4 separate regions of the Homo sapiens genome follow, and regions 2, 3 and 4 are each linked to region 1. Evidence: fine-mapped expression QTL. A gene starts in region 1. Each other region holds a variant in brackets. All regions are shown on one strand. Distances are between the middles of the regions.

What was found. PIP is the estimated chance that this variant, and not a neighbour inherited with it, causes the effect.
Region 2: its variant is fine-mapped to the expression of APBB2 in sun-exposed skin (GTEx, PIP 0.96).
Region 3: its variant is fine-mapped to the expression of APBB2 in whole blood (TOPMed, PIP 0.96).
Region 4: its variant is fine-mapped to the expression of APBB2 in thyroid (GTEx, PIP above 0.99).

What each region holds. Positions count from the first base shown.
Region 1 is chr4:41,211,786-41,219,914 of GRCh38, reverse strand. It overlaps APBB2 (amyloid beta precursor protein binding family B member 2), which reads left to right and starts at 5,373. Exons shown (of 18, transcript NM_004307.2): 1 at 5,373-5,510. RefSeq lists enhancers at 3,062-3,311, 2,619-3,433, 7,001-7,080 and silencers at 3,442-3,491, 5,109-5,278, 5,689-5,998.
Region 2 is chr4:40,930,500-40,938,628 of GRCh38, reverse strand. APBB2 (amyloid beta precursor protein binding family B member 2) reads left to right here. Exons shown (of 18, transcript NM_004307.2): 8 at 3,490-3,552; 9 at 3,930-4,015; 10 at 4,113-4,173. Among named protein-coding and RNA genes, the nearest start is that of NSUN7, 180 kb to the right of the region's middle. The variant T/A (reference allele first, on the strand shown) is at 3,293.
Region 3 is chr4:40,852,549-40,860,677 of GRCh38, reverse strand. All of the region lies in intron 12 of APBB2 (amyloid beta precursor protein binding family B member 2), which reads left to right. Among named protein-coding and RNA genes, the nearest start is that of NSUN7, 110 kb to the right of the region's middle. RefSeq lists a silencer at 3,359-3,558. The variant C/T (reference allele first, on the strand shown) is at 4,911.
Region 4 is chr4:41,138,140-41,146,268 of GRCh38, reverse strand. It overlaps APBB2 (amyloid beta precursor protein binding family B member 2), which reads left to right. Exons shown (of 18, transcript NM_004307.2): 2 at 3,127-3,282. Among named protein-coding and RNA genes, the nearest start is that of APBB2, 72 kb to the left of the region's middle. The variant C/A (reference allele first, on the strand shown) is at 3,303.

The sequences.
Region 1 (8,129 bases):
ATATTTTTGAAATGGAATAAGGGTTGTTATATTTTTAATTTTCTTTTTATTACCAACCAAACAAGCAGCAGTGATGGAGTGATGGAGTTTGATTATGTGTCCTTCAGTTTAGTAGTTAAGATTTTATCTTTAAGCAACTGGAAGTCATCAGCGGTTTTAAAGGAGAAGAATGACATCATCAGCACCTTTTTTTAGAAGGATCACTCTGGCAGCGGTGTGAAGAAAGGGCTTGGATTGGGAGTGATGGGTGTCATCAAGGTTGGTTAGCAGGATTCTGAAATATGCATGAAAAGACAGTGAGGACAGTGGACAGTGAGGACAGAGAGGCAGGCCCACATTTGAGAGGCAGGCATTCCTGAGTTGGGAGCAAAAGGGCTTGGTGATTAATTTAATGCGGGTGGTTGAGGAGGAAGGAAGAATTGAAGATGACTGAGATTTCTAGTTTAGAAACCTGAGTAATTGGGGAATGTCATTAACTGAAATAGGAGTGGAAGGAAGGAAATCATCCTATGTGAGGCCTACCAGAAGCTTTACATATGTTATTTAATCTTAAATAAACCTATAATGAAAAAATTAACATGCCCATTTTGCAGATAAGAAAAGTGAGATTCAGTGAGGTAAAGTAGCTTGCCCAAGGTCACACAACTACTAAGAGCTGGAATGTGAAATAAGGTCTTACTCCAGTGCCCCTATTCTTTCCATGATAGTAGGGGACTTTATGCTTTGTACCTCTTTGTACCTTTCTACACTCTAATAATAATTTTAGTTTGGAAAAATAGGACTGAAGCTCAATGGGAAGGTAGACCATGGAAACATGGTCCTCCCAGGAATAGTGCAGTATGAAGAGAGATTAAAGGATTGCCCTAATGACATTAAGGCCCAGAGCAGCACTGTTGAATACAATTTTTTGCAGTGATGCAAATGCTTTTTACTTACATTATCCAATACAGTAGTCATTAGGCCATATGCTACTGAGCACTTGAAATGTGGCTAGTATGAAAGAGGAACCGAAGAGTTAATTCTAACTGATTTTAAGTGATTTCAGATTAAATAAGCATATGTGGCTAGTGACTGCCATATTGGATGGTTTAGGACTAGAGAAACCAGTCAGGCGTAGAGGGTTCATCAGAGAAGAGGCCTTGCTGGTACCCCTGAAAAATCACTCGATATTTGATCATCTGCCTCATACCTCTGGGTAATATTGGTCCTATATTTGGGGACCATAATTTATTAGCTAGCAAAAGGTTTTTTCCTAGTGTGGACTACAAACTTATTTTACTATGTTTTATCTTTAGGAGAGTAAGTACAATACTCCCTCTCCTTTCTTATCTGAGAATCATTATAGTCATTTTCTCTGTATTTACATTTTTCCATACATAGTATTATTTAAGAGCTCAAGCTCCAGGAAAACTGCCTGGGTTCAAATCCCAGTTCTGCCAATGAATATTTTGTGCCTTGAGTTAGCTGCTTCACATTTGCAAGCCTCACTTTCCCTATCCATAAAATAGGGATAATAATAGTGCTTCATTTATAGGGTAGTTGTGAGGATTGAGTTAAATAACCTATGGAAAATGCTTAGCCAGTATCTGGCACATGCTAAATAGTCAGTAAGAGTTAGCTATTCTAAAACTAGTACCGTGTGACAGTGTGTATTTTGTACCTCTGCATTTTGACATTTACTCAACTCTATTTTTGCTTCAATAGAAGGTGTTCCTCCAGATCTCTGTCAGAACATTCCAAAAAGAAATTCATTCCTCAAGATAAGAAGGTAGACAGAGTTTTGAAGAATTAGATTTTATCTTATTGCAGGCATGAGTTTTGAGTTGTTTTTTATTTCACTTTGATTACTAAATTGTTAAAGTATTTAAAATCATTACAGAAGAAAATCATGACCGTGATATTTTGTTGTGATCATTAAAATTCCCTTGGTTTAAGCTCAAACCGTTGCACATATACCACACAATCAAATAATAATACTAGAAGTTCTTAATGTTGGCACAGAAGATTTCTTGATGTTTTGTAGTTATACTGTTTTTTTTGTTTTGTTTTGAGATGAGGTCTTGCTGTGTGGCTCAGGCTGGAGTGCAGTGGCTATTCACAGGCAAGATCCTACTGCAACTTTGAACGTCCAGCCTCATGTACCCTCTTGCCTCAGCCTCCCCAGTAGCTGGTACTACAGGCTTGGGCCACTGCACCTGACTCATACCTGTTTAATTGAAATATTTAATTCCTAGACTCTGGCTATTCAATGCCACTTAGAAGTGGCTGGATATTTGTTGATCATGGACTATTTAAAGACTAATGACGTCACAGGAACAAGTAATAGGATCCCTTTTGTTGTCACCTATTTTGTATTTTGTAATCTTTGGATTGTAAAACTGCATTGTAATATAGTATTGCACTCCCTACGGTGTTTGTGCAAAAAACATTTTTTTTTCCCCATTAGATTGGAATTTTGAGAAATCTGGCTTCAAGTGCCAGTTCTGCCTTTGGTTTGTCTAAATAAAGAAGTCATTTATTTCTCTGGGCCACAGAGAGGTAAATGTCATCTGTAAAGTCTAAGAGTTGATCTTGATTTGATTCTAGAATGGTCTTGAGGTATCCTTCCAAATAAAATTCCTTGGATCTGCCTCCTTCCCCCAACTCCCTAGGAGGACCTTTGGCCTTAAGGGACTTAAGAGAGGTCAGTTTTATCTACTGTTCACAGCGTTTACTTCCATGCTTTAAAAAACATGCTCTTGGAATATTCTTGGATATTTCATTTCCTTGGAAAACAATTAATGGGTGAGTCAGCATGAAGAAAAAAACCCACTCACAATAGATATAAAAATTGCATGAAGTGGTGAAACGAGAAATGATTTTCTTTGTAAACTGAAATGATGAGGTATGCAGAAACCAATTACGTATTTATAAAATGAGCGCGCGGTGGGAAAGCTTTATGTAGCAAAGCTAAAGTGCTGTTACATATTTAGCAAGACAGAGGGCATGGAGATTCCTCTCCATACTGCCTTAAAACTGCTGTTAAACGTTCCTTTCAGTGAGAGAGACAATGTGTTGGGAGGCGGACGAAGGAAGGAAGCAAGGGAAGGGTCAAAGCCTTCCCTCCGGCCCCGATCAGTCCCCTCTGTAAATTCATAATTAAGGGAATTTCCTCCTGCAGCTGCGCAACGCTTGGTGGCCGTTTCGACGTCACTGTCAGGGCATTTCAGGGATTTTGTGTGCCCAGGCAGTGACTTCCCGACTTCTCCGGCGTATCCCCGACGGGGCGCAGAACACCGCCCGTGGCGAAGTCGGGCCGGGGGAGTTTGGGAACCCGTCCCCGGGAGCTCAGCGGCCAGAGGAGGGCGCGGAAGTGTTTCCTGGGTGAGCGCGGCAGCGGGACCCGTTTCCGGAAGGCTGATTGCATCAGGTGTGGAGCAGGGCGCCTCCTCGGCCCAACCTGGCGGCCTCTGCGCCTGCGCGCGCCGCCCCGCCCCCCCCCCCCCCCCCCCCCCCGCCGCCGCGGACTCCACCGCGGGTTTTCCTCTCCGTCGGGAAGAGACCGACCTGGGAGGGGCAGGCTCCGCTCACCTACCCCGGACCCCCGAGAGAGAGCGGGGTGGCCAGGCCGGGTTCCGGGGATCTGAGGGGAGCTGTGAGGTCCGGGAATAGAGTGCCTTGGAAAGAGGACCCGTCTGCAAGGTTGGAGGCTGGTCGATCTCCGCTCCTGACGGGAATGGTGGTCTTGGGCTGGTTTCCTTGCCTCTTTGGCCTTGAAGATCACAGACTAAGAACCACAGGCTCTCCAGTTCAGAGAGCCTGTATTTTCCCCAAGAGGTCTACTGTGGCCCTCGACTGTCCTTGGTCCACGGACGTGTTAGGTGGATCTTGGGGTGCAGAGACTCAGTCCCAAGAGTAAACACTTTTCATGAATTTATAGGGATTTCTCTGTGACAGTATTGTTTTTATGTTGTAGGAAGGAGGGACATGATTGCTGGCCTCCAGCTCGGTCTGAGGGAGATAATTGTTAATTGGAGAGGTTATTGGAGTGCAAAAGTCAGAAACCACCTTCCACAAGGCAGCCCCCCTCCCATCCCTTCGTAACAACCTCACTGAGTCTGCATGAGGGTCCCTCTATACACTCTATTCGCACCTTGTGCATTTCCCTCCCAGCACTCTACCTGTTTGAAATAACCGTTTTGAGTGATTATTTGATAGGTGTCTGTCACCCGGCCGGACTATAAATTCCATGAAAGCAGGGGCCTGGGCTTTTAAATTCACCACTATCCTCAGGCCTAGTACAAGACCTCGTGGATCCTTAATAAACTCATGTAGGAAAGAATAAAGTAATGCCCACCCCACTGCATAGAGTCCTCATAGGAAGAATCACGTGAGTTTTTAATTCGAGATCCTTGGTAGGACTGTGTGTGTGTGTGTGTATGGGTAGGGTTCTCTAAAGTGTATAGTCCTCACACCAGCAGCATCAGCATCCCATGGGAACTTGTTAGATATACAGATGCTTGGGCCCCACCACATATCTACCCATTCAGAGACACAGATTGGGACTCAGGGATTTGTACTTCAGCAAACCCTCCAGGCGATTCTGATCCAGGCTCCAGTTTGACAACCGCTGCCCTGGTGAAGAGCAATCCTAAGGATACTTTGGGGATGTCATTCACAGCGTCTGGGGCAGAGCACGGTTTACCGTTTACTGAGACTCGACTCTTATCAGGGCTTTGTTTGCACGCTTACAATTAGAGTTATAGATAATATTATTGGCAATGGAAAGGAAAACCTCCTTTTCCTCTCCGGCAGTTGTATCTCTCCCCTGATATTATCTTGTGATTTCCGGATCAAAGAAGAGTGTGTGTGCGGCATATGCCTGGGGGTGGGGATAGGAGGTAGAAGGAAGGAGAAGGTGTCGCCTACAACTTGCAGTTAGCCTGGGTGGGTGTGGGCAGCTCTCCTGTGGGGACATTTTCCTATTGCAAGGGAATGCTGGCGTGTGGGAGAAAAGCCAGGGCTAAGGTAACCCAACTGCCTTTTGGTGCAGACAGACACCAGCCACACGGAGGGGATACCCGGGCTGCACTGCACGTCCTGCCTTTGGGTCTTACTGGGGGACCCATTGCCTCCCTGCGTGTTCCCAGGCGATTGGGGAGGGTGCCTCCCGCAGGCCCTGCCGCCTCCACCTGCAGGGGTCGCCCTGGGAGCGCGGCCCGCCTCCTTCTGCCCGGCCCCCACCCCCCGGCCCCGCCTTTCTCCCATTCGGCCCCCTCCCCGCCGGGTCCCTCCAGCCTTCCCTCGCGCAGCCGCTGCCAAAGCCTGGAGAAGTGGAATCTCGTCAGCGCCGCTCCCTGCGCGGGACTCGCGGAACGGCACTGAGCATGCTCAGTTGCCGGAGCCCGTTCTGGTCTCAAGTAGGAAGCTAGTGCGCTGTAACCGCATCTGATCTGGGCGCTCCGGGAAGGGCGAGACTGGAGCAGAGCCGCTGGGCGCCGGAGCCGAGGCGAGCGCCGCGCGCACCACTGGTGAGCCCAGCTTTCTTCCTTGCCTTTGCCCCGGATTCCGGGGCAGCACGAGAGTGCTGGGGAAACACCCGGGTAGCGGCAGCAGCGTGCGGCGAGCGGCTGCGGGTTCCCCCGGCGGCTTCTCCTCTGCTCCCGGCCCCGGGGCTCCGCGGCCACTGCTGCCCGCTCAGCCGCAGCCACACCTGCAGCAGCTGCCGCGGCATCTGCAGCGGGGCGCCTGCTGCGGAGTCCCGTGCGCCCTGCGCCCGCGCCGCAGGGCCAGTGGCACGGCGACTGCGGGCTCACTCTCCTTGACTTCCATCCCTCCCGCTTCCCGGCGCCCTCTTTCCCTCAGCAGCCCCGGCTTGGCAGGGCCTGGGGCGGGGGAGACCGGGTTGGAGGCGGTGCGCCCGGGTGGGGACTGCAGAGGGGAAAAGTGAGGGTGGGCGCCTGCGGGAAGAGCGCACACCCCCTTGTCCTGGCACCGGCCTCCGCTGTGCCGCTCGGCTGTCTCTCCTGGGCGGCAGCGCGCTCCTGCCGGGGAGTTGGAGCCGGGGTTGGCTTCTCCACGAGGGGTTCAGAGGCCAGCCCATGAGACATGAAAGGGGGGAAAAGTTCCTTTTCCCCCTCGGTGGCAGAGAGAGCGTTTAACTAGAAAATGGCTGTGCATAGGGGACCGACTCCAGGAAACTGGCCACTGGGACCCGAAAGCCCCTGCGCTGCCCACCGGGCGGAATGGAGGGTGGTACGCTAGAAATGACATTTGTGCGGCGAGAACAGAGCTGGACGGAGGGAAGGATGCTGAGACCCATAGAAACAATGAAAGGTGGTCTTCACGTCGGTGAAGTGGTGTAGACTACGGGTTCGGGGCAAACAGCCGAGGGAGCATGGGACTAGAATTCAAAAAAATAAATTAATTTGGATAAATCATATGTGGAGTTGTCACCGACCGTTCTGTAGTCAAGTTCTGCGCGGTTTTAGAGCCACGACTGTCACAGACGTTTTTGGATGGATTGAGTGGTTGAGGAGGGTTAAAATTGAGAGGAGAATAAGGTCAGTGTCGGAAGCTCCAACTGGGCTCTCGGAGGGGACAGTTTGTTTAAGTCCCTCAGTCACTGGCTTTACATTGTGTCTAATTACTTACGTGAAATACCCAAAGGATTATCATAAAATGATGCCATCGGTGGTGTTTGAATTCCAAGGAATGAGGAAACTTTGTGAGGTTGGCATGGGTTTATCATTTGTTTTAATATTTCACTGATTTAAAAAAAACAAACACAATGGCAGTTTGATCTGTTGTTTCTGGAGTTTACTCTCTTAAATCTTGCTTTTTTTTTTTTTCTTGTCATGGTTTCAGATTTAAAATCTTGTCCCCAAATGGCCATAATAATGCAGAGTATTAGAATTTGTGTGGCTGGCCTTTTAGGAACAGATGGAATCCTTGAAAGGGGATTTCTTCATGAACTTAGGTAGCAACCTTCTCGTTTTCAACTTGTAGCTTGTAAGCAATATTTGTTCAACAGTTGTTTATCATAACTTGCAACATCCTAGAAATGGCATCGTTCGTGAAGGATGGTATTTGTGGCGAGAATGGGGAAACCTCCAGGCTGGGGAAATGCCGAGAGAACACAGGTGGCAGTAGAGTACAGTGGGTTGATCATAGGGCGGAAGGTGGTGGGGTACAAGTACAAGATTTCAATTGCTGTTCTTTCGTTGTCCATGTACTGTATGACCCCGAAGTCACCGACAGTCTTCGTAAACTGGATGTAACCACGTCTCTAGATATTTGCTGAGAGCCTTTGAGAGACGACTCTAAAGTTGAGATCCTTTCCACAGAAGGTTTTTAGGTCCTATGCTTTTATTCCCTCTTCTAATGGATACTTTTAACTGAATAAATTCACCTTCAAGGAGCCAATGTGAACTGGCTTTCTGAAATTTTTATAAAGTGGTAATTGAAAAGCTGGATGGTGAGGTGGGAGGATTGCTTGAGCCTAGGAGTTTGAGGCTGTAGTGAGCTATGATCACGCCACTGCACTCCAGCCTGGGCAACAGAGTGAGATCCTGTTTCTGAAAAAAAGAAAGCTTGATGAGCTAAAGTGCAAAATACTGGTGTTTACACTTAGCTGGAGTAATGTGAATACTGACTCCAAAATTACTTGGGAAAAAACTATTGCATATATTGTAAGAATCCACATGTACAAACATAAAATATTTTTAAACTGGTACTTTTTGTCATGTTTCAACCTTTTGATGACTGTTTTCTTTTCCTGCCACCAGAAAAACAGCATATGAACATTGAATTCTTTTATTTTTCTGTTACCACAGGAATGAATACTGAAAGCCTTGTCATAATATTAGAATAATGATGTGTGTGGACTATCCTGAGTACTGGATATCTAAATTTATCTTTTAAGAAAAATGGAAGGGAGAGCATCAGGAAGAATAGCTAATAGATACTGGGCTTAATACCTAGGTGATGGGTTGATCTGTGCATCAAACCACCATAGCACATGTTTACCTGTGTAACAAATCTGCACATCCTGCACACGTACCTGGAACTTAAAAGTTGAAGGAAAAAATAAGAAAAATGGTATGTCGTGTCTCTGTACCTTTTTCAATTTCATTTTAAAAATAGACAAT
Region 2 (8,129 bases), 280 kb after region 1:
CCTGGTAGGGACATACCCAGCCCCTGAGACTTAGTCTTTAAGAGCACTCTGTTGATATTGTCAAAGAATCAACTCCATTGTTGGCCTTTTTCCAGCTGAAAGATAATGCGTCATTTTTGTTTGCTATGTGGAATTGCTTTCCAAGACCCCAGAAGAGAAACATGGAAGAAGAAAACTCTCAGTAGTCAAGGTTATATGATCGGATTCCCTCCTTACTGGGTCCAGCCTCACACAGCTTCCGTGTGGTGCTCAAGGGTTTTGAGGAGTGCCATACCCCGGGCATTGGGTCAGTCCCCCTAGACACACTGTCTCTGAGGAGCTAAGGCTCCAAGGCTCTCCCAGAACTGAGCAGGATCAAGTAATCAGAGAAAGGGAGGTTGCAGCCTGGACAAGGTCAGGACAAGCACCAGGAGGGTGTCCCAGCTATGACTGTGGTACCAGAATGTCACTCAGCTGTGCAAGGCTTTAGCTGCATTGCCTGGAGGGTTACCAGGCTCATGGAAGCTTGTTGCTCATAGAAGATGGTCCCTGTTGGTCCGTTACCACCTCTTTCCCCATCTTTGTGTTTGTCTTACCTGAGGCATATTGTCCAACTTGCTTTTTCCCCTTTTAATGTTTTTCTCTTTGTCTCTCCTCTTCCTCCTTCATCTCTCCCACCCCTACGGGGGTGGATACAGACTTTCTGTAGAACCAAAGAATCTCTGTTGGGTTGTGCTTTTTTAAAAATTTGTTAACTAAAAATTATTAGCAAAACTTATTAGCCAAATATAGAAAATATTCTCTCTTCTTAATTAAAAAAGTTAGATGAATAGACCATGTAATTCTTAAAATTTAAGACAAAGTGACTTTGTCTTTCATTGACTTTAATTTTTTAAAAAAGAAAAATTATGGTCACTTATACATTGGAGAAAGTTTGTCATATTTGATGTAAATGAATAGTTGTAAATATAGGAGGGGAAAAAAGATCTTTGGCCCAGTCATAACACATATAATGCCAGTTTCCATTTCCTTACTGAGTTTTGTGCTAAAGGATTTCCTTAAGAGTGCCCGTGTTAAGTTTTTGTAAAATCACTATACAGAGCCTTTGTTTATTTAAATCTGTAAAAGGTGATTGTTGGACATTTGCCATCTAACTCATGTTTCCATAACATGAGAGCTGGATTCTGACAGTCTTAATACTGTTTTTAGCTTTTGCTTTACAGATACCCTTATGTCCAAAGAGTAAATGCATTAAAAATTTTAAAAACCACACACACGCAGAGAACTGTTTTAATTAGGTACTGAAGACTTTTCTGAGTACTTGTTTTAGAAAATACTCTTCTTTTACTTTCTGTAGCCTCAACATATAGGGTCCCTTGGGGATAATTTCTGAAATTCTTTTTGTGAGGTAACTTTGTTTTTCTTGTTTCTTTATAAATTTCTCCACAAAGACACAATTATCTTGGGTCTTCCTAATTCATCATCTGATTATCCTTTTTTAAAGTTCAACTTAACAACAAATATTGCTCACATGTAAACAGTGATGACAATTTGAGGCCATATAAGCTTGTTTTCTTTTTGAAAAAGAAATTCTAGCTTAAAATTTTATTTTGTACTTGATATTTCAGGTCCTCATCTCACATCCATATTAGTAGCCCTACAGTGGTCCAAACCGAAATTGGTCACTGGCCCATCTGGAAATATGAGAAAAATTGGGCATCTTTCTCTCAGGAAAATGTACATGTACAAAACCCCGCACCCATTTCAGGGGTTCATAGCTCCTCCGAGCTAACAGGTTAAGATTGCCCTAGGTTATTAATTTTCTCTTCATAAAGACTGAACACTGCTTCTGGGGGTAGAGTGAGGGGAAAGGTAAGGGATTGGGCAACATTCCTGCCCTTTATTCATTAAGAGAAATTATTTTTTAAAAGTAAATATAGTGGTCTAAGTTCCCATTTTATTTTGAAAAGCTGCAGTTTAGGTGCCTAGACCAAAAATGAAAATGACACCACATGTGCAATAGTAATAATGGGTCTAAATTTGAAGTGTCTTTGCTCTCAGAGAGGCTTGCAGAGTTTGGTAAGTGCATGTTGCACCAGGCGCCATGGCTTACGCCTGTAATCCCAGCACTTTGGAAGGCCTAAGTGGGAGGATCACTTGAGCTCAGGAGTTCAAGACCAGCCTGGGTAGCATAATGGAACCCCCATCTCAACAAAAAAGTTTTAAAAAATTAGCCAGGTGTAGTAGCATGCACCTGAATAGTCCCAGCTACTCAGGAGGCCAAGGCAGGAGGATTGCTTGAGCCAGGAGGTCAAGGCTACAGTGAGCTGTGATTGGGCCACTGCACTCCAGCCTGGGTGACAGAGTGAGACCCTGTCTCAAAAAAATTTTTAAACAAAATAAATGCATCTTTCGACGCACAAGACATTTAAGCTTAGTTTTTTTCTGCTTTTAGTGGTTTTTAAAACTGTATCAATGTTGTGAGTAAAAGTTATGGGTCATTATTCACTTCTCATTTTCAAAGAACTTCAGTTGAAAAGTGATTTAGCTGAAAAGTTTTGATGGTTGATTTCTTATACAAACAGATTTGCCTAACCAGTCAGTAAAGCAATTCACAAGACTGTCCCTGAGTTTTATTAGCCTTGCTTGCTTATTTCCCCAAATCTTAGATGAAAAATACTTGAATATTCACTAGGCCTAGTAGAAAGAAAAGACATTTTCTCATTGTCTGAGGTGGATGGAGCAGTTGTTTAGATTTGGAAATCAGTTATTGCAAGAGCTCTCGCAACAAAGCCAGGCTTCATGCCTTGCACTATAATTACGTTTAGAAAATCATTTCATGATCAAGTATTAATTTGTGAAGAAGCTTTTGAAGCAAAAAAAAAAAAGTAGAGCTTTTATGAATTAGAGAAATTTATGTTAGACTGTTTAGAGTTGTTTTTTGTTAGGTTAAATTTCCGCCAAGTGTTGATGTCAGTCTGTGTTCTTCACTAACCCTCTCTCCCCATCATTCTCCTTTTTTTCTTTTAAGTGAAAATATCTTGACCCCCAACTTTTGGGGCCCTCAGCCATGGGCATTCCCTAGTTTCCAAACAAACACGGTACCCGTCCCTCATTCCACCCCCACCACCAGAAAACAGTTCTGTTTGGTTTATAGGGAGGAAAATGATTATTATGGAATTAGGTATGCTAGTTATTGAATACTTGGAATTATATTGTTTGCTTTTAAAATTACCTTAAGGAAATAACTTCACTGTCTGCTTCTAATAATGTTTAGTCATTTATTTGGTAAGTAATTAAAGCACCATCACTC[T/A]CCTGCCCTCGTCTTCAGGTGATAATCTAGACATAGAGGGAGTGAGCCAACAAGTTGCTGTTAGAGTTAACTTGTTCCCTAACCCATCTTGTGAATATCAATGCTAACAACAGTGTCTTGTGTTTTTTTTTTTTCTTTTCTTTTCTTTTTCTTTAAATCAATGTGCTTTTTTCCTATGTGAATAATTATATGTCTAGAAACAGCCATGGAGTGATTTTGCTGTTCTGAATGGGGGAAAGATTAATAGTGACATTTGGAAGGCAAGTATATTGTCAGATCTTAGATCATTTAATATTTTATCCTTTCTGCATGGCTGTGGCTGTATATTTTTCTTCTTTGTGAATATCATGCATTCTGCAGGGACACAGTGATCGGGCTTCTTGCTAGGGGCATTCAGCTCACACTCCTGTTGCCTTTTTTTGGTGTCTCCCATTGTGAATGCCCTAGGTTCCCCGTTGTTTTGTAAGAACAGGAGTTTGCACCAGTCAGCATTCAACAGTCCTTGCATGCCTTTCTCTGCCTAAGCTCACGTACACTCTCTGCCTCTTGCTGGGAAGACGTTTCTCCCCTTTGATATTTGAGGCAATGAATGGTCTTCTCCCCCATTGTACATTAACAAGGTTCTATTTTCCTCTAGGATTTGCATGCAGCCACTGTTAACCCGGACCCCAGTTTAAAAGAGTTTGAAGGAGCAACCCTACGCTATGCATCTTTGAAACTCAGGTAGGACATTAGTAGGATCGACCTGCTGTCAATGTATGGCTTTGTGCAGATAGTTTGCAATAGAATTCTAAGTCCACTTTTCTGTTTTTCTGCCTAGAAATGCCCCACACCCTGATGATGATGATTCTTGTAGTATCAACAGTGACCCAGAAGCCAAGGTTTGTAAAGACTTGCTTTCAGCCACCAGGTTATATTCTTAGATCCAAATAATGACTTTGGATCATTGTCCAGTTTTTACAAACCATCAACCCAGAGCCATTTAATAAGTAATTATCCCTCAATTTTCTCTTTCCTAATCTCCCTGACACTTGAAGAAAACCCCTAGGCTAAGTTAGGTTTGGGGGGATTTCTAGAACCATCAAGACTCTGCCTGTATCTCACTACGTCAGCTCTTTGCACAATGTAATAAATTACCATTATTGTTCAAATGGGTGGGCTTTAGAAGTCTTTAAAGATACACCAGGCTCTGCCTTGCAAAGCAATGGGAGAGGAAGCTAAACAGGTAGGGTGTGAGACCCCTCCCACCTACCGCCACCAGAGCAGCCTCATATCTGTGCAAGGTGAAATCTCTTTGCCATTCCTGTCATAAACACAGATTGGATAATTAGGTTTTATGATGGAAAACTGGGGGCAGTTGGGGCAAACTTGTGTCCATTTTGTTTCTGGACTTCTGGTAGGTTGCTAACAGAGCCAGCTTTCTGGGCATGTGGCCAGTGCAGCTGCACAGGCCCCACAATGAGAAGGCCCCTGTGTGTGGGGATGAATGCTTCAAGGTTGCTGTCAGGAAATTCTTAATCTTTGAATTTGTATCTTATAAGTCAAGTCCAATGGAATGTCCATGAGAGGGCTGGGCTTTGGATTGCACACAGTCCTGCCACCTCCCAGCGTCCCTGTGCGGTTCTCACCTTCTGGCCCCCCGGCATCTCAGGCCCTGCCAGACCTCCCTATCTCCCTCCCTACGTAGAGACTTCTACTGCCCTCTACCGCGGAAGAGACATGGGTGTGAGCACGGGAGGGTTGGGGTCAAGTGCACACTCCCTGGGTATCTTGGGATTGGAGCGTGGTGGTGACCAGCCCAGTCTGGGCTGGCAACACTGCTGTGTGTTCCACAGGCGACTCAGTGGGGGTGAGCCTCTTGCCTACCCGCAGTCCAGGCACCTAGCATGTCCCAACACTGATGTTGCAATACATTTATGGGCCACCCATCTGCTGTGGGTTGAGATTGTGGGGCCATGGGAAGAGAGGGTTCCTGGCTTGATTTACCCGCCCCTGATCAGTGCATGGTGCATCTGTCCAGCAGCTGATGGGAGAGGGTACCCAGAAGCCAATGGTCTGTGTGCAGGTACCAAGATATGGACAGGGCCCTGAGTGTTTGTAAGGGTTTGCACTTACAAGTATCCCCATGCCTGAGGGATTGTAACATTAAATAGCAATTAAAAAACACATTAACGGCCAGATGTGGTGCCTTACGCCTGTAATCCCAGCACTTTTGGAGGCCGAGGGCGGCGGATCACCTGAGGTCAGGAGTTCAAGCCCAGACTGGCCAACATGGTGAAACCCCGTCTCTACTAAAAATACAAAAATTAGCCAGGCTTGTTGGCACATGCCTGTAATCCCAGCTACTCAGCAGGCTGAGGCAGGAGAATCACTTGAACCCAGGAGGCAGAGGTTGCAGTGAGCTGAGATCGCGCCACTGCACTCCAGCCTGGGTGACAGAGCGAGACTCCATCTCGAAACAAAACAAAACAAAACATCTTAACAAGCCAAGAGAAAGCATACGGAAGAAAGGAAAAACTTTTATGTTTTATTATTGTTTGTAGCGTCTTCCCCCTGCTTTTTGAACGGGGCGGGGGCTTGCATTTTCGTTTTGCATTTTTCATTTACAAGTTATGCATCTGATCTTCGGTGCTAACAACCATGGAATTCCACCTTGTCTACTTCAGCACCTTCCCCTCCCCTCCCCTTCACCCTCCTGTGCCATGGAGAGAGAAAGAATCTTCCCAGATTCTTTTTTATTTGTTCTGAATCCCAAAGCAGATCTGTGTCTACAAGTAACATCGCAAATAGGTTTTCTTAGTAGCACTTAAGAGGGGAACACCATACAGGTTCAAAACCTTGACTCCTTTGCCAGAAACTGCCATATTGCCAGTTGGTTCTGTAAGTATCTTAGGGCTTGCAGTGAAATCTGTGCTGCTTCTGGTCAAGTCAGCTTTGTTCTGAGCACAGCCAGTAATATCATGGCCACTCTAGAGCCAGTGGCATTCTGAACAAGTCCTTGGGCTGCTTCTAACATTGCTGGTCTTTAAAGATAAATTTTATGGTAAGGAACGCAGGTTGTGAACAATTTGCTTTGCTACTTGATGTTTTACAAATTCTATCAGCAAAGGCTGGAAGAGGAGCAGTGAATATCTCTGTCCACCACTAAGGGCTGGGGCAGTGATGTATGTGGAGCCAGGGTGTGAAATTGACAAGAGGGAAAGCATGGAATGGAGATGGAATTGTAATAGGAATAGGAGGACTGGTTCCATTAAATCCAAGTCAGTGGGTTGGGCTTTCTCTTTTTCCCTTCCGGCTGTGTTGCTTACTGAATTCTTTATCTGCCACCTTTTTATTGCCAGCATGTCTATTTCAATGCCTGTTATGAGTCTGTTCACGTTAGTAAGGAAGCTCAGCTTTGTCTTACGTTCCTAAAGCTGTGCTTAGTTTTAAACAACAACAAAAAATACATGCATTGTATTATTCATCTGTGTCTTACTTTGTTCCATAGAAGATGTGAGGAGACTTCTAAGAACAAACACTTTAAAAAAAAAAAAAGGGCACAGAAAATATAAGAGAATAATCAGTGCATCAGTCTGGGCTGGAATAATATAGAGAGTAAGGAAAGATCAGCCTAGGGAGAATGAAAAACCTACAGCTTTTCAGATCTCAAGATTTGCACAGCTGCTAACATGGACCTGCAGGTGGGGTTTTCTGTGTGTGCCTCCTGGTGATTATTTAACCTGAGGATTTTTAGCATGAATGGAATGAATGCCTAGAAGGGCTCATCAGAATCTTGAAAGGACTTTTGCAAGCTGGTACAGTGGCTTGTGCCTGTAATCTCAGCACTTCGAGAGCCCAGGAGTTTGAGACCAGCCTAGCAACATAGCAAGACCTTGTCGCTACAAAAAAATAAAAAAATAGCTGGGTGTGGTGTCCCATGCCTGTGGTCCCAGCTACCTGGGAGACCGAGGTGGGAGGAGCCTGGGAGGTAAAGGCCGCAGTGAGCCATAATCGAGGCACTGCTGTCCATGAGAAGTCCATGAGTTCAGAGCTGACTTCAGTGAAGACACATTGGAGGAGCTTCCATCCCCTATCGGAGTCATTCCTGCCTGTTTTGTGTTGCCTGGGGGCCAGAGCCAGCACCTCAGAGGGAGGAGTGGCAAGACCTAGGCTTTCTGGATGTTCCAGTGCCTTTGTAGAATAAGTTACTCACCTTACATGACCCTTTACATTCTTGCAGTCCACCAAGAACCAAGGAACCAAGTGGTCCCCTCCCCCGAAAAATCCTGACTTTAAAAATAATATTTGGGCTGGGCACAGTGGCTCATGCCTGTAATCCCAGCAGTTTGGGAGGGTAAGGCAGGCAGATCAAGAGGTCAAGAGATCGAGACCATCTGGGCTAACACAGTGAAACCCCGTCTCTACTAAAAATACAGAAAATTAGCTGGGCATGGTGGTGGGCGCCTGTAGTCCCAGGTACTCAGGAGGCTGAGGCAGGAGAATGGTGTCAACCCTGGAGGCGGAGCTTGCAGTGAGCCGAGATTGTGCCACTGCACTCCAGCCTGGGCGACAGAGCGAGACTCCGTCTCAAAAAATAAATAAATAAATAAAAATAATATTTGATATACTATGGAATTCTAAATATAGTCTGTGAGGAATGATTACTTAAAAGTTATTATAGAAAATATCTTCCTTACTCCCTACTTAAAACTTACATGCTGAAAAAAATAAAAATTATTTTTAGACTGTCAGGATGGGGACACTTCCAAATCCTCTTCAGCTACTACTCTGAATCTGGGCACCTTAATCAGTTGTTCAGTGAAACCTCTAAATAGCAATGGCAACACAAAATCAC
Region 3 (8,129 bases), 360 kb after region 1:
AGAATAGTCAATGAGACCACCCTCAGGTTTGATAATTTGCTAGAAGGACTCATAGAGCTCACTGAGGGCTGTGATTATGCTCATGGTTGTGGTTTGTCACAGGGAAAGGATTCTGATTAAAATCAGCCCAAGGAAGACACACATAGGACAGAGTCCAGGGAAGTTCTGAGCCTTCAGTTGTCCTCTCCCCACGGTGTCCTGGGCAGCATAACTTCCCTGGTGTTGCCGTGTGACAATAGCACAGAGTATTGTCAACCAGGGAAGTTCATCCAAGCCTTGGTGTCCAGGATTTTTATTGAGGCTCCACCCCAAAGGCATAGACAACTGGTCCAGGGCTAATCTCAGTCTCGAGTCCCTCCAGAGGTGGAGCTGATACTGCATGGGCCAAGCGCCCACCCCAGATCACCCTATTAGACCCTCTAGTGTATCCCAAGGCCACTAGGCAAACAGAAACACCCCAGTCAGGCACAACATTCCAAGGTGTTAGAGTTTACCTCCCAGAAGCTGAAGGCAGAGGCTCTCTTCAGCCAAGGTTGAATTCTTCACTGTACAGAAACAAAACCAGACTCTGTAAGTTTATAAAGCTCACTGTAAAGTGAAGGAGATGAATAATAAATGGATGATTTTCCAAATATTTAACACCAAGCTGCAGCAGGAGTACGAAGGAAAAGCCTGGGATGCTGTCAGGGAGGACACTGCCTGTCAGGAACATCTTCCAAAGGAATCAACTTTTGGGCTGAGATTCCTAGAAGATGAGAGGGATTCATCAGGTGAGCAGTGCAGGGAAGAGCATTCTAGGAGGGTCACAGTCAGTGCAAAGGCTCTGAGGTGGGAAGTAGCTGGGCGTGTTCCAGGAACTGGAAGAAGAAAAGGGGACTGGAGCAGAGACAAAGAGGAGGGAATGTGGTTGCAGCATTGGAGATAGAAGCAGGGACCTGATCCCAGGCGGCCTGTGAGACCCTGAAAGCGATTATAGACTTTATCTGCATTGCAGTGGGAAGCCACTGTGTGGTTTTAAGGTTCGAGCATGGATACTCATATTTGTGATTTTCGTTTTTGAAGGGACTCGCATTTGTGATTTTTGTTTTTGTTTTGAAGGGACAGGTGTGGCTCCTGTGAGAACAGCTTGTTAGAGATGAGTGGAGGCAAGGAGACTGTTAAAACACTACTGCAGGCCGGGTGCGGTGGCTCATGCCTCTAATCCCAGCACTTTGGGAGGCTGAGGTGGGCAGATTACTTGAGGCCAGGAATTCAAGACCAGCCTGGCCAACATGGCAAAACCCCATCTCTGAAGCATGAGGATCACTTGAACCCAAGAGGAGGAGGTTGCAGTGAGCCAAGATAGCGGCCACTGCACTAGTGAGACACTGTCTCAAAAAAAAAAAAAAAATGACAGCAGCCCTCCTGATGAGATGTTGGCTGGAACTAGGGTGGCAGCATGGAGTTGAGAGAAGGGGGCAAGTTGGAGAGAGCAGGAGGAGGCAGAGTTGGCAGGACTTGTCACACATGACTTCCTGCCAGCAGACCCTCAGCTGTCACACTTGACGTACCCTGTGGACATCTGGCAGACCCATCTATTTGTTGCTTCTGCCCTGCTATAGACAGAGAATCAGACAACCAAACTCACTGGAATGATGTGTAAGGAAGGAGAGGCAGCCTTTGAAGGGGTGACAGGTACAATCCTGTTAACTTGTTTCATATCTCTGAGCTTGCTGCTGTCTGTTCTGGCTGCTGAACCCCAAGTCTTAAACCCTCTTCTAGCCTCACTTGCAGTTTGTGTTGTGTTCCAGACAGTTGTGGTTGCCAAAGCAGTTTACTGTCAATAACTCTTCCAAATAATTGAAGTGTTACTGATCGTAGATTCAGAAACAGCATGAGTTAAATCTTGCCCTCCCTAGAAAGACAACTGTTAACTAGAAAAGCATAATATAAAATTTTCTGCACAGAACCTGGTACTTAGGAGGAGCTTAGTAAATGTTGAACAAATGAGAAAACACCTGATCCTCATTTAAACATGAACATTAAAGTTGTCTGTACACCTGTGGTGTGTTTTACCAAACCCAAACAAGACCTATAGTTAAATACTCCCTTGATTTTCCATGTGTATTTCCTATTTTCTGTTCCTTTCTTTGTAAAAGGAGCGTATGAGACTTTGAATATAGCCAAAAACATGGCTAATATGCTTTGCCTATTTTGCTCTTTTTTTTTTTTTTTTTTTTTTTTGAGACGGACTCTCACTCTGTCACTCAGGCTGGAGTGCAGTGGCGCGATCTTGGCTCACTGCAACCTCCACCTCCCAGGTTCAAGCAATTCTCCTGCCTCAGCCTCCCTATTTCACTTTGTTAATTGGCTAATCAAATAACTTACGCTTGCCCAGAAACAATTAGAAAGAGGAAGTACTTTCAGTGCTCACAGAATACAGTCAGTGAGAGACCTTGGATTTTCCTTTCCAACTCATATATTTATATGACTAGTGGCTAGCCAGGACTCTTACTTAAAGTGCTGAAAGTGCTGTCACTTAGCCAATTGGACATTTTCTGCTTCCATGTATATGGGGGGAGGGGCGCTCAGCTAGAGATGACAATGTTGGGGTGCCTGTGGGATCTTGGCTTCAAGTCAGCTATAAACAAAAGGTGTCTTAAAAGAGGTAGGGATTACAAAAGGGTGTAGGGGTGTACTGCTAAGTGCTTTGTGTAAATTGGCAGATGATCTGTAAACACTTTCCAGCTCGATTCAGAATTTTCTGCCTCTTGAAATCTGATTATTCAGATTTATAAAACTACAATTTGGTTTCTGTCTTTCTGCCCAAAGGCTTTCTGGCTGTGGGCTGCAATACCTCCCTTCCCCAACCACCCCTCCCCGCCCCCCATTTCCCCCACTCGCCCCACAATCAGGATCGTAGAAACCCAGCCTGGTGCGGTGGCTCACCCCTGTAATCCCAGCACTTTGGGAGGCCGAGGCGGGCGGCTCACTTGAGGCCAGGAGTTTGAGACCAGCCTGGCCAACATGGTGAAACCCCATCTCTACTAAATAGGAAAAATTAGCCAGGCATGGTGGCGGGCGCCTGTAATCCCAGCTGCTAGGGAGGCTGAGGCAGGAGAATCGCTTGAACCTGGGAAGCGGAGGTTGCAGTGAGCCGAGATCGTGTCACTGCACTCCAGCCTGGGCGACAGAGCGAGACTCTGTCTCAAGAAGAAAAGAAAAGAAACCAGAAACCCAGCAGGCCTAGAGCATCAACTTTTTCTAAAGAGGTTCAGTGGGTTTGAATGAAGTTTCTAAGTCTTGAGAGTCCAAAAAGGAAACGTTCGTTACAGGAAGGGAGTATGTTGGGGTGGGGGATCCTCCTTGCCGGCCCTGAGCCAGTCCCCTAGCAGCTGGAGCATCTGGCGGGAGCACCTAGCGGGAGCACTTCACGGGAGTGCGGCCGGGTGGGGCGGGGCCACGCGCCTCCCCAGCAGCCAATGGGCGGCCGCGGCGGGCGGGGCAGGGAGGGCGCAGGGAGGCGCGGGCGCCGCTCTCTTCAACTTGAGCCCGGGGCAGTGCGCGCGGCTGCTTGAGCGACGGCACCGCTGGCTGGTGCCGGCACCCTGGGGCTTGTCGTAGCACCTGGGGCGGCATCCCCGCCCGACTTCGGAAGGACCGGGAGGCAAAGGTGAGGAAGTTGGCGAAGGAACGGCTCTCCTTTGTTTGCAGGTGCGTTCAGGGGGAACGGGGGTCGAGCCCAAGCTCGCTCGCGGGGACAGCGAGGCGGGCGCGGGAGACCTGCGGGACAAAGGCTGCGCCCTCCCTTCCCCGAGTCAGCGCTTAGCGAGTTGCCTGGTCCTGGACGGCTGGAAGGGCTGAAGAGGGGGCTTTCTGCCCCGCCGGTGGGAAGAAGGAGTGAGGCTTGTATGAAATGGGGGGGAGGCGTCCTTGGACCCCCAATTCGCCAGTGCAGCAGGACTGTTCGGGGTGGGCTATTCATTGATGGGGTCTGCACGGGGCATTTCTGCCGTGGACAGCGTTCTATGATTGAGGCAGTGACTGCCTTCGCCTCACGTGCCCCCTGGTGAGGCCACATTTCTGTCTTCCTGTCTACATTAGGACTGAAAGATATTTCAGGGTTTTGGTAATCCAGTATTTGGATTAAAAGCAATATCCTTTCGTGTAGAAAAACTGTGCATTTCCAAATGATTTTAGTTACACGATTTAGGATATTGGTGTGACTTCCATGCGAGAAAATATCTCAAATTCCCCAAATGTAGAAACGCAGCCAGCTCTTGGCATTGAGAAAGAAGTAGTGTTTTTGAAAAGAAAGGCGTGAAGATTTAAATATTGCTTACAACACTCTATTAGCTTGTGGGGGAATCTGTGCCTTTTCTATTATCTGTTTCCCTATACCAATATTGTAACCAGGCACGTCTATGGATTCCTAATTAATGTGTAGCTGTGAATCTTCATTACTGCCTTGGGTGGGAGAAGGCGGAAGGAGGGGGCAATCCCATTAGTCTTTTTCTTTCTTTTTATAACTGCAGCTGCAGCCTGGCTTTGACTTGTATCATGAATGGGGGTTCTGCCTGCTTTCCTCATGCTGTTCTCTTTTAGGTTTTCTTAGGCCATTGAGCAGTTGGCCCTTCCTCCAGCCGAGCTCTTACACAAGAGTAGTTTGTAAGATTCTCTCTAAAGTTCAGATCCTTGCTGCTGCCTTTTAGTTAGTTGAGTTCAGAAAGGAATTATTAAGTGTCCTGAGGCCTTTCCTAAGAAGTTAGAAGCAGAATGTGTTTGTAAATGTGGTCTGTAATTTTGTAAAAGTTATAAGTAAAAGGGAGTGTGAATGAAATGCTTAAGAGGGGAAAGACTTTCCATAAAGCATCAGCCAGTATTATCAAAGAAGGTGTCATGGTTTGTAGCTCAGTAAGAACCCTACTTTC[C/T]GTTTTGCTTCCTTTTTTTTGTTTTTTTTTTTGAGACAGAGTCCCTCTCTGTCACCCAGCCTGTAGTGCAGTGGCACAATCTCGGCTCACTGCAACCTCTGCCTCCCAGGTTCAAGTGATTCTCCTGCCTCAGCCTCCTGAGTAGCTGGGACTATAAGTGCACACCACCACACCCGGCTAATTTCTGTTTTTTTGAGTAGAGACGGGATTTCACCATGTTGGCCAGGCTGGTCTCGAACTGCTGACCTTGGGTGATCCACCTGCCTCGGTTCTCCCAAAGTGCTGGGATTACAGGCATGAGCCACCATGCCTGGCCTCATTTTATCATTCTCACTTTGCAGATGTGAGAAACACACTTTTCTAACAGCCGCCACGTTGTTTAGTTCTAGCTTTTCTGCAATGGGGATAATTTATTTAATAAGTATTTATTGGACACTTGCCATGTGCTGGGCATTGGTGCTGGTGATTAAGTGGCATAATAAATACAACAGGTGTCTTCTTCCTTTCTTGGAGCTCACACTATGCTGGCGTGGGGCCCATTGCAGGTTCTCTGCACTGGAGCATCCCTGGGAAGCAGTGTGGATGACACCAAGGTGAGACAAGAAGATACTGCTGCTGATGGCCGCCTTGGAGGTCAGCTGAGCATGTGGCAGTAGGCGCAAACAACGAGGGGCCTCAGGTCATCTGCACTCCAAGGGTGGAAGTATTAATCACACCAGTGGGCCATTGGGCACTAAAGTCGGTCATCTTGAACTTGCTTACTTTGATCTCAAAGGAGCCTGCAGCTGCAAGGAGGGGCAGAGCTGAGTTCTAAAGAGTTTGAACATTGGCATTGTTGATTTCAATGGGGTAATTCCAGTTTGTTACAAAACTATCAGTCATGCAGCCTCCTTGTCTCACCTATACAGCTTTCCTCTTGGACAGCCCCCCTAGGAAATGAATTTCTTTTTCTTTCTTCTTTTTTTTTTTTTTTTTTTGGAGATGGACTTTCGCTCTTATCGCCCAGGCTGGAGTGCAGTGGCGTAATCTTGGCTTACTGCAACCTGTGTCTCCCAGATTCAAGCGATTCTCCTGCCTCAGCCTCCCGAGTAGCTGGGATTACAGGCGCCCGCCACCACACATGGCTAATTTTTTTGTATTTTTAGTAGAGACAGGGTTTCGCCATGTTGGCCAGGCTGGTCTTAAACTCCTGGCATTAGCTTATCTGTCCATCTCGGCCTCCCAAAGTGCTGGGATTACAGGCGTGAGCCACCGCGCCAGGCCTAGGAAATGAATTTCATTCTGTACCACTGGCTGAGCAAAGCTTTACATCTGTCCAGGCTCCCGAGTGTTAAGAGATGACTTAACTGTGTCCCTATTTACTCTCCATATACGTTTCATGGGTTTTTGGGAGTAAACTGATGGCATATAACCTCTTATCTAGGTTTTCACAAATCTCTAGGATCACAGAAAAACATACTAAGTAGTAGTGTAACTTGTCTTTTTAAAGAGCTTGTGTTGAACACAGAATATGACATATTTGAGGAGTTCTTAGACTTTTGGATTCCTCGGGCCCTAACATAGTACCTAGTATAGGATGCCCTCCATAAATAACCCAGTTGATGAATGGGCAGATGAATGAATGTAGATGAAAATACTTCATTGTCTACTTTTAGGGTTTAATTTTGACCATCCATGTGCTTAATATTTATAGTCTAATGGTTAATATGCTGTTCGGCAGATAAGGAGCATCCATGTGTCAGGCACCTTGTGAGGCAGCATGAAGGACTGAGACAGATGAGGTCCCTGTTTGAAGAGGCAGGAGATAAGCCGGAAAAACAATTCAGGAAGCAAGATGATACAGGTTATGCCGAGTGTCTTGAAGACCATCAACAGCGTGATGCAACAGAGTAGCTCAGAGGGGAAAGGGGCCATCAGGAGGCAGCCTGTCCTAGGAGGCAACATTTGAGCTGGGCTTGAAGGCTGAGAAGAAGCCAGCCATGTAGGGAGTGAATAGAAAGCACTGAGGAACAGCTGGGTGTGGTGGCTCATATCTGTAATCCCAGCACTTTGGGAGGTCGAGGCAGGTGGATCACCTGAGGTTAGGAGTTCAAAACCAGCCTGACCAACATGGTGAAACCCTGTCTCTACTAAAAATACAAAAAAAAAAAATTAGCCAGACATGGTGGTGCGTGCCTGTAATCCCAGCTGCTCGTGAGGCTGAGGCAGGAGAATCACTTGAACCCAGGAGGCGGAGGTTGCAGTGAGCCGAGATCATGCCATTGCACTCCAGCCTGGACAACGAGCGAAACTCCATCGCAAAAAAAAAAAGAAGGAAAGCACTGAGGAAGTGGAGCACTCAACGTGCCTGAGGATGAAGAGGAGGCCAGTGGTTTGTGCTGGAAGAGGTGGGTGGGGACAGGATCCTTTAGGGCTTGTGGGCAGTGCTTAAAGGTTTGCCATGAGGTGCCCGTGAAGAGGGTTAACCAGGGGAATGCCATGATCTAGTTTATTTCATACAGAAAGATCTCAGGGAATAGATATTGGGAACAGGAGTGGAAAACGAGGGACCAGTTGGCTAGCCCTAGTCCAGGAGAGATCAGTGACATGGCAGAGGGCATGAAGAGAAGCAGGTGGGTGGGGGAAATGTGGAGGTTGAACTCGCCAAGTTGACTGTAGAAGATGCAGGAAGGGGTGTGATCTAGGACCATACCTGATTTCTTTGATGCGTTGTTTATGTCTGTAGAAAATACATGCTAATAGAAGTAATAACTGTTCGAGGACAAAGTTATTAAGCCATGGAACAACTCCCTTTACATTTATGTTGTATCAAGACCTTGATTTAAGCCAGACACGGTGGCTCATGCTGTAATCCCAGCACTTTGGGAGGCCGAGTGTCCCCAAAGGATCACTTGAGGCTAGGAGTTTAAGACCAGCCTGGGCAACGTGGCAAAACCTTGTCTCTGCTGAAAATACAAAAATTACCTGGGCATGGTGGCACATGCCTGTAATTCCAGCTACTAGGGAGGCTGAGGCACGAGAATCTCTTGAACCTGGGAGATGGAGGTTGCAGTGAGCTGAGATCGCGCCACTGCCCTCCAGCCTGGGTGACAGAGAAACACACTGTCTCAGAAAAAAAAAAAAGACTTTGACTTTCTTTTCTTTGGTTCTCCAGTGTAGATGAGCAGACGTATCCATCCAGTGCAATCTTGTGTATTTGGCCATTTTTCCAAGATGTTT
Region 4 (8,129 bases), 74 kb after region 1:
CTGTAATCTCCTCCTCCTGGGTTCAAGTGATCCTCCTGCCTCAGCCACCTGAGTAGCTGGAATTAGAGGCGTGTGCCACCATGCCTTGCTAATTTATGTATTTTTAGAAGTGAAAGGGTTTTGGCATGTTGGCCAGGCTGGTCTTGAACTCCTGGCCTCAAGTTATCTGCCTGCTTCAGCCTCCCAGAGTGCTAGGATTACAGGCATGAGTCACCATGTTGGATAAATATTTAAAATTTTTTGTAGAGATAGGGTCTCACTATGTTGCCCAGGCTGGTCTCGAACTCCTGGGCTCAAGCAATCCACTTGTCTTGGCCTCCCAAAGTGCTAGGATTACAAGTATGAGTCACCGTGCCTGGCATCTCTTAATTTTTGAAACCACTAATGTCTTTCCCTTAAGACTTGGGTCATTTTGGAAGTAAGAGGCCAGACTTGATGCCTTCAGACATTTATTATTTCTAACACTGGTGCATGCATCTTTCCTGTCTCTCACAGGTGGCTTGGTGCAAGTGTAGTTTTATCTTGTTGAAAGCCTTTTGTTCTTCTTTGAACAGTGGGACTGTAGTGTTATCAACAGGGCCAGTGCTAGGACCAGAAAGCTTTCGGTGTGATAGGCAGTTTCTGTTCAGGACACCTGCTGCCCAAGCACAGTGCACTCATTGTTTCTTCAGTTGAACATGTTCTAGGCAGAGCTGTGTCTTTTTTAGCCTAGGATTGAGTCTTCACTTTTTCTCCTGCATGCGTTTCATTTTTGGTAGAATAAATTTCTGTCTTCTTCTTCTGGTTTTGCTGGTATGAATTTAATACCTGCACGTGATTTGTACAAAGTTTATTTCCAAGAGTTCATGCTGAAATGTCATAGTGGTGGAAAGAGCACTTGGTCAAAGTGGAGGCAAATGGTCTGGACTCTCATTCCTGCTTTGCTGGCTGTGTGGCTGAGGGAAAGACATTTTACCTCTCTGGGCACGGGCTTATTAGAGCAATGGGTTGCCAAGGCCCCAGTGTAAAGATTCCACCATTGTGTCTTGTGTTTTTCAGGATGCCAAGAGCATCAGAAATGAGTGTGCCAGGAGTCATTAAGGGCCCTGCTCCTGTGAGTAGGTAACACCAGGAGGCATTCTTTTATTTATTTAATTTATTTGTGTATTTGAAACAAGGTCTCACTCTGTCTCCCAGACTGGAGTATAGTGACGTGAACATGGCTCACTGCAGCCCCGACTTCCCAGGCTGTAGTGACCTTCCCACCTCAGCCTCCTAAATAGCTGGGCCCACAGGCATGTCCCAACATGCCCGGCTAATTTTTTAAATTTTTGTAGAGACAAGGCCTCTCTTTGTTGCCCAGGCTGGTCTTGAACGTCTGGGCTCAAGTGATCCTCTGGCCTTAGCCTCCCAAATTGCTGGGATTACAGGCCATAAGCCACCATGCCCAGCCCGTTCTTTTAACTTAGTGACAGTTTTATGGCATGGCCAGTGATAGAGAAATTTGGATGCGATAGGTGAGGGAGGGAAACAACTATGGTTCTCTGTCTGTGGCAAGTTTGCAGAGTAAAAAAGAATTTTTTATTTCTAGGAAAGTGTTGTTCATCACTGGAAGTGTTACTGGACACTTGGGTTTTGAACGTGTAAATTAAGAACTTCTGTGATCAGATAAATACTTCTTCATTTGTTAGCTCTGTTCAGATAAGAGGCAGACCGAAGATCAGGCTAATATAGCATAGATACCCCATTTCTGATTTGTATTCCTGCAGTCTTAAACCCCTTATTTAAAAATTCTCTTAAAATACATGTTAATTGTAGAAAATTTGGAAAATACTAGAAAGAAAATACAAATAGCTTTCCATTCCATAACCCAAAAGTGCTGTTGTTCATACTTAGGTGTCTTTAGATTATATGCACTCAGTTTGTAGAACAAAATTGGGATCATACCATACATATATAACTTGATATTTTGCTTTTTTTCTGCTGTTCCTTTCGAGATGATTTTTGGGACTGAGGTTTCAACTGAAGGTAGAGATTAATGTAATGTTATGCTTAGCACACTTGTGACGAGGACTGTTTTGATTTACAGAAATAGAACTGTGGACCCAGTATCTGAAAATAACATTTGTCCTGTCCCCTCTTGAATAGACTTTCAATATTTGGCATATACAGATGTCGTCATAACTGTTACTATAATTAACAAATGAAGACTTCTTAATCTATTAGCTCTTAATGTTCACTAATTGCTTTCATAAGATTCCCTCATTGAGTTTTCTGTGCCAGAATTGCTAGCTGCACCACCAGTGAGCATAAGTTATTTCCACACTGTTTTTCCTTAAGCCCTGATTCCTCTAGCTAAAGCATGGCAGCGCCTGTGGGCTAGGCCACATGTTTGGCAGCAGGATAGTTAAGGGATTCCTTTTGCCCAGTTATGTTATACGTTTGATAATATTTATGATTTACTTGTTGAATGTTGGTTTCATATATAATTTCCTCTATTAGGAAATGAAAGATTATTCGTTTCCCCTTTGGATTATGTAGCCTATAAAATTTTCTATTACACCATTCATATTGCAATGTAAATATATTCTAAATCCTGAACCGCATTAGAATTTTTTATAGCCCCCACTTATGTGTCTTTTTGTGGTGCCCTTTGAAGTCCTGTAATGTTTTATATTTGAGATTAAATCTGGGTTTCGCTTTACTTTTTAAAGCATATTGAGCAAGTTAATTTTCTGTTTCAGTTCCTAAGGGGAATGATTCCAGCCCTCTGTGTCCCAAGAATTCAGACTGAGCCCTGCCAGAACATTCCTGTGGTTTTCCACGGGGCAGATCAGTATGTTCATGAAATTTTAGTTGTAGCTTGTGTTTTCCATGGTTAATTAAAACATCTGGCTTTTCAGTTTCCCACAAACAGAGCATAATCACTAGGCCAAACCTTTTCAATAAATGATTAAATATTTCAATCCTCCCCTCAGAATAGCCCACACTTGTCTTTAGGATACCTTGTAAGCTGTTGCCTCTGTTTATAATGATTTTGAACGTTGGGAACATGTTTGAGGTTATCCTGCCAAATATGTGCCCTTGAGAGAGAGAAAGTTGATGACTTTGAGTCCTTATAATGGCTTCTGGCCTTTGCCCCCCCAGGTTGGAGTTGCTGTGGGTGAGCTGCTGTGGTCTGTAGCCAAGCATGCTGTGGTCGGATCTGCCCAGCCGTGGAACAGAAACATTTGCTGGATGGAAAATCCATAAAAGAAAGCTCCTGTGAAAAGCTGAGGCTGACAATAATTTAAGCAAAATCAGGTTAGTATAAGTAAGAGAGG[C/A]TGGATAAAGCGGATTGGGCCGGATAGGGAAAAGTTGTTTTGTTCCTTCCAGGCTCATTTTGGAGACCACCCCAAATGATTATTTTCAGTTATTTGTGAGAGTCCCAGCATGTGTAAATGGCAGATACATGCTGATAGCCTTTTGTGTATAGTGTAATGATGTCTTCCTTTCCTTCTCTTCCTTTTCCTCTCCTCTGTCCTATCCTCTTTCTCATCTTCCTCTCCTCTCTCAGAGAAGAGAGAAGGACGTTGGCACAAATATTGGAAGAAGCCACAACTGGAAGCCACCTATGCCAACTTCAATGGTCTTGGCTTTATTTTGGGGAGAAAGCGGCGTCCAGCCTCATGGAGTTGGATTTGTAGTTTCAAAGACTTGCACTCATTTGTGTTTTCGAACTTTGAAGGGTGGGGCATGGAGACCTGCCATTTCTGTTGGGATAATTCTGGCTGTGAGCCTCCAGTCTGCTTGGCCAGATTTTATATACTCTAATCTTTCCCCAAACAAAAGCCACCAACACATTTCATTTTCTGCAGTGTGTGCATTTGGCATTAAGATACTTATATACGACAGGGGAAGAGAATGTCCTGAAAAACATAGGTGTTTAAATAAATGCCAAATGCTCTCACTGTGGGCCAGGTGAATGAAACAGCATGGATAACCCCATATGAGGCAGTAAAGTGAAATAATTCATTTTGAAAACATATATTATACAGGGACAGACATTGCAGACCATTTCTGTTGGACATTCAGTGGGTAAGTCAGCTTTCTACATAAGCAGCTAATAAATACTCCCTAGAAAGTAGTGAGTCACAGTCTTTCAGAATCTGTGAAGTAGTGAATGTCTGTTGGCTTTGTCTGCCCAGCATCCTTTTCCTCCATCTTTTAATAAATCATCCAGATTTTTCCTGGACAATTGCCCTTGTTTCATTTTCACCCTATGTAGTTAGAGGAGGTGACCCTGCTGACTCAGTTATGGGCATGTAACATAAGCGTGGCCAGTGATATGGTTTGGCTGTGTCCCCACCCAAATCTCATCTTGAATTGTAACTCTCATAATTCCCACATGTCATGGGAGGATCCTGGTGGGAGGTGATTGAATTATGGGGGTGGGGTTTTCCTGTGCCGTTCTTGTGATAGGTAATGAGTCTTATGAGATCTGTTGGTTTTAAAAACAGGAGTTTCTCTGCGCAAGCTCTGTCTTTTTTTGCCTGCTGGCATCCATGCAAGACATGACTAGCTCCTCCTTGCCTTCCACCATGATTGTGAGGCTTCCCCAGCCACATGGAACTTAAGTCCATTAAACCTCTTTCTTTTGTAAACTGCCCAGTCTCAGGTACAGCATGAAAATGGACTAAAGGGTCACAACCATCTTTGGAGGGGCCATAGTATTCTTATTGCAACTATTGAAGAAGTTTTGCCTTCTGTGAGTTTGTTAAGCTGGAGCTGCTAGTGGCAGTTTTTCTATGACTTAGGGAAAACCTTACTGAAAATTAAGACAACACAGGATAAATCAAAGCAGGGAGATGGAGGAAAAGAGATTGGTGGGAAGGGAAGGGACACTCGTATGCATATGCACACATGCACACGCACACATGCGCGTGTGCACACAGACACACAGACACACACACACACAGACACACACACACACACAGACACACACATATTTTTGACCTGCAATTCAGCAGTGCCTAAACCCAGCATCTCCTGTTTCACTTTCTTGGCAACTTAGCTAGTTCATCTGAGTTAGGTGTCTGTCTCTTACATCCAAAACATCCCAATTGGTGGTACCTTCTAGGAGTGAGGTCTTAGTGTAAAATGACTGTGGCATAGTCCCTGTCTTTAGGGGCTCATGGTGTAGGGCAGCAGTCCCCAACCTGTTTGGTATGAGGGACTAGTTTTGTGGAAGACAGTTTTTCCAAACAGTGAGTGGGGTGGCAGGGATGGTTTCAGGATGATCTAAGCACGTTACATTTATTGTACACTTTATTTCTATTATTATTACTACATTGTGGTCTATAATGAAATAATTTTGCAACTCATTGTAATGTAGAATCAGTGGGAGCCCTGAGCTTGTGTTCCTGCAACTAGGTGGTCCCATCTGGGGATGATGGGAGACAGTGGCAGATCATGAGGCATTACATTCTCATAGGAAGCATGCAACCTAGATCCCTGGCACGTGCAGTTCACAATAGCATTTGCGTTCCTATGAGAATCTAATGCTGCCACTGATCTGTCAGGGGGCAGAGCCCAGGAGGTAACGTGAGCGATGGAGACCGGCTGTAAATACAAATGAAGCTGTGCTCATTAGCCCACTGCTCACCTCCTGCTATGCAGCCTGGTTCCTAACAGGCCACAGACTGGTACCAGGGGCCCCTGGTGTAGGGGATAGGCCAGATAAGTATTCACATGACTGACATGCAGTGTGACAATGTATCTCTAGAGGTAAGAACAAAGTTTTGTGGGAACAGAGATGGAATTAGGAATTCTGTTGGGTGGTAGACTAGCAGGGAGGGCGATTATTTAACAAGGTAGAAGAGGATTAAGTCTTAGGAACATTAAAAAACATTAAAAAGATTTAAAAAATAGATTTAATTCAATTACTTGCTTTTTGAGTCTAAAAGAAGGGAAGGCTTTCCAGAGCATATAGTTAAAGTAAATTGCAGATAATGAAGATAATTTCAGAGGTTAGTAATGGTAGAATCTTGTTTATTTACTCTGAATACAATTGTTTAAGGCCTAGCCAAATGAGAGGCTATCAGAAAGCTGTCTGGAGTTAGTTTTAACACGACAAGGTAACAGCTGCTGTTCTCACCAGAACCTCAGTCAGCTTTCTGTTTTAAGGAGAATTAAATGAATTTAAAGACTTATTTCCTCTTTTTAATGATAGAGTTTTCATTAATATTATATTTTGTAATTACACTGTTTTTTGGGGGAAATTTTGCAGCAAGTACAGAAAGTTTCCATGTGACTTCTACTGCCAGTTTCCTATATCATTAGTGTCTTGCATTAGTGTGGTATATTATAATTGATGAGCCAATATTGATACATTATCATTACTAAAATCTATAGTTTATATTAGGTTCACTCTTTGCGTTGTATGTTCTATGAGCTTTCATAAATATATAAGTTGTATTTCCATTACAGTATCATACAAAATAGTTTCACTGCCCTAAAAGAATTGCATGTTCTACCTGTTCATTTCTTCTTCCTGAACCCCTGGCCACTACTTATCTTTTGCCCCATAGTTCTACTTTTTCCACAGTGTCATATAGTTAGAATTATACAATAGATAGACTTTTCAGATTGGCTTTTTCACTTACCAATGTGCGTTTAAGTTTCCTCCATGTCTTTTCATGAATTGATAGTTCATTTTTTTTAAAGCACTGAATAATATTCCATTATATCGTTGTTCCACACTTTATCCATTCACCTATTGAAGGACATCTTGGTTGCTTCCAAGTTTTGGCAGTTACGAACAATACTGCTGGAAACATTAATTTGCAGGTTTTTATATAGATATGTGGATAAGTTTTTTACTCATTTGAGTTTCTCACCATTAAATATGATGTCAGTTTTAGGTTTTTTGTGAATGTTCTTTATCAAGTTGACAAATTTCCCCTCTATTTCTAGTTGCTGAGAGTTTTTATTATGAAATAGTGTTGGATTTTTGTTGGGTGCTTTTTTGCAACTATTGATATGGTCATGATTTTCTTCTTTAACTTATTCATAGGTTGGATGATACTGATACTTGAATGTTGAGCCAGCCTTTTGATAAGAGATTATGTTGACTTTCTAGTTCAATATTAAGAGCTCTTATGTTGACTTGCAGATCAATATTAAGAGCTCTGATACGTGAACATGGGACATGTTTCCATTTCTTTCAGTTTTCTTTAATATCTTTCAACAGTGTTATATTGCTTTCAGGGTACAAGTCTAATACTTCCATATCAAATTTATTCCTAAGTATTTTTCTCTTTTTGATGCCTTTATAAATTAAGAAAGTAATTATTTTCAAAGTATTTGTAGCTAGTGTATAGAAATGCAGTTGGTTTCTGTATAATGATCTTGTTTCCTGCAACCGTGTTGAACCTGTTTATCAGTACTGATAGTTTTTTATGTGTATGACTTTGCTAGTATTTTCTATATACCAGATTATGTCATCTGCAGATATAGTTTTATTTCATGTCCAATCTGGATGTTATTATTATTTATTTTTGCAGTGATTTGAAAACTTGAGTGTGATGTGAGAAATACAAAGTTATGTGCTTTGGAGTTTCTAGTGAAATCATTCTGTTATGTAGCTTTTTGATAAGGATAAAAGATGATAATTATGAAATTTATCTTCTCACAGTTGACTTAGTTATTCAGTCATTGAGCTTCTTAGTCACTCCTATATCTTCTTTGGAGAAATACCTGTTCAAATCCTTTGCCCATTTTTATATTGGGTTGTTTCTTTTGTATATAGTCTGATATAAGCTCTTTATTGGATATATGATTTGCACATATTTTCTTCTAGTCTCTGGCTTGTTTAATGGTGTCTTTCCCCCCAACAATGAAATACTGTAAATTTTAATCATTGATAAATTGCATCAATATGGGAAACTGTGTGTATGTATAAACTTATTTTCTTAACGGTGTTGTTTGGTGCTCAGAAGTTTTTAATTGTAACAAAATTCAGTTTATTCGTTTTTTCTTTCAAAGCTCATGATTTTGATGTTTCTAAAAACTCTTTGGCTGGCTAATCAAAGCTCATGAAAAGTTTCTGTGTTTCTTTCTAAAACTTAGTTTTTGTGTTTTTTTTAAATGCAGTCTCACTCTGTCACCAG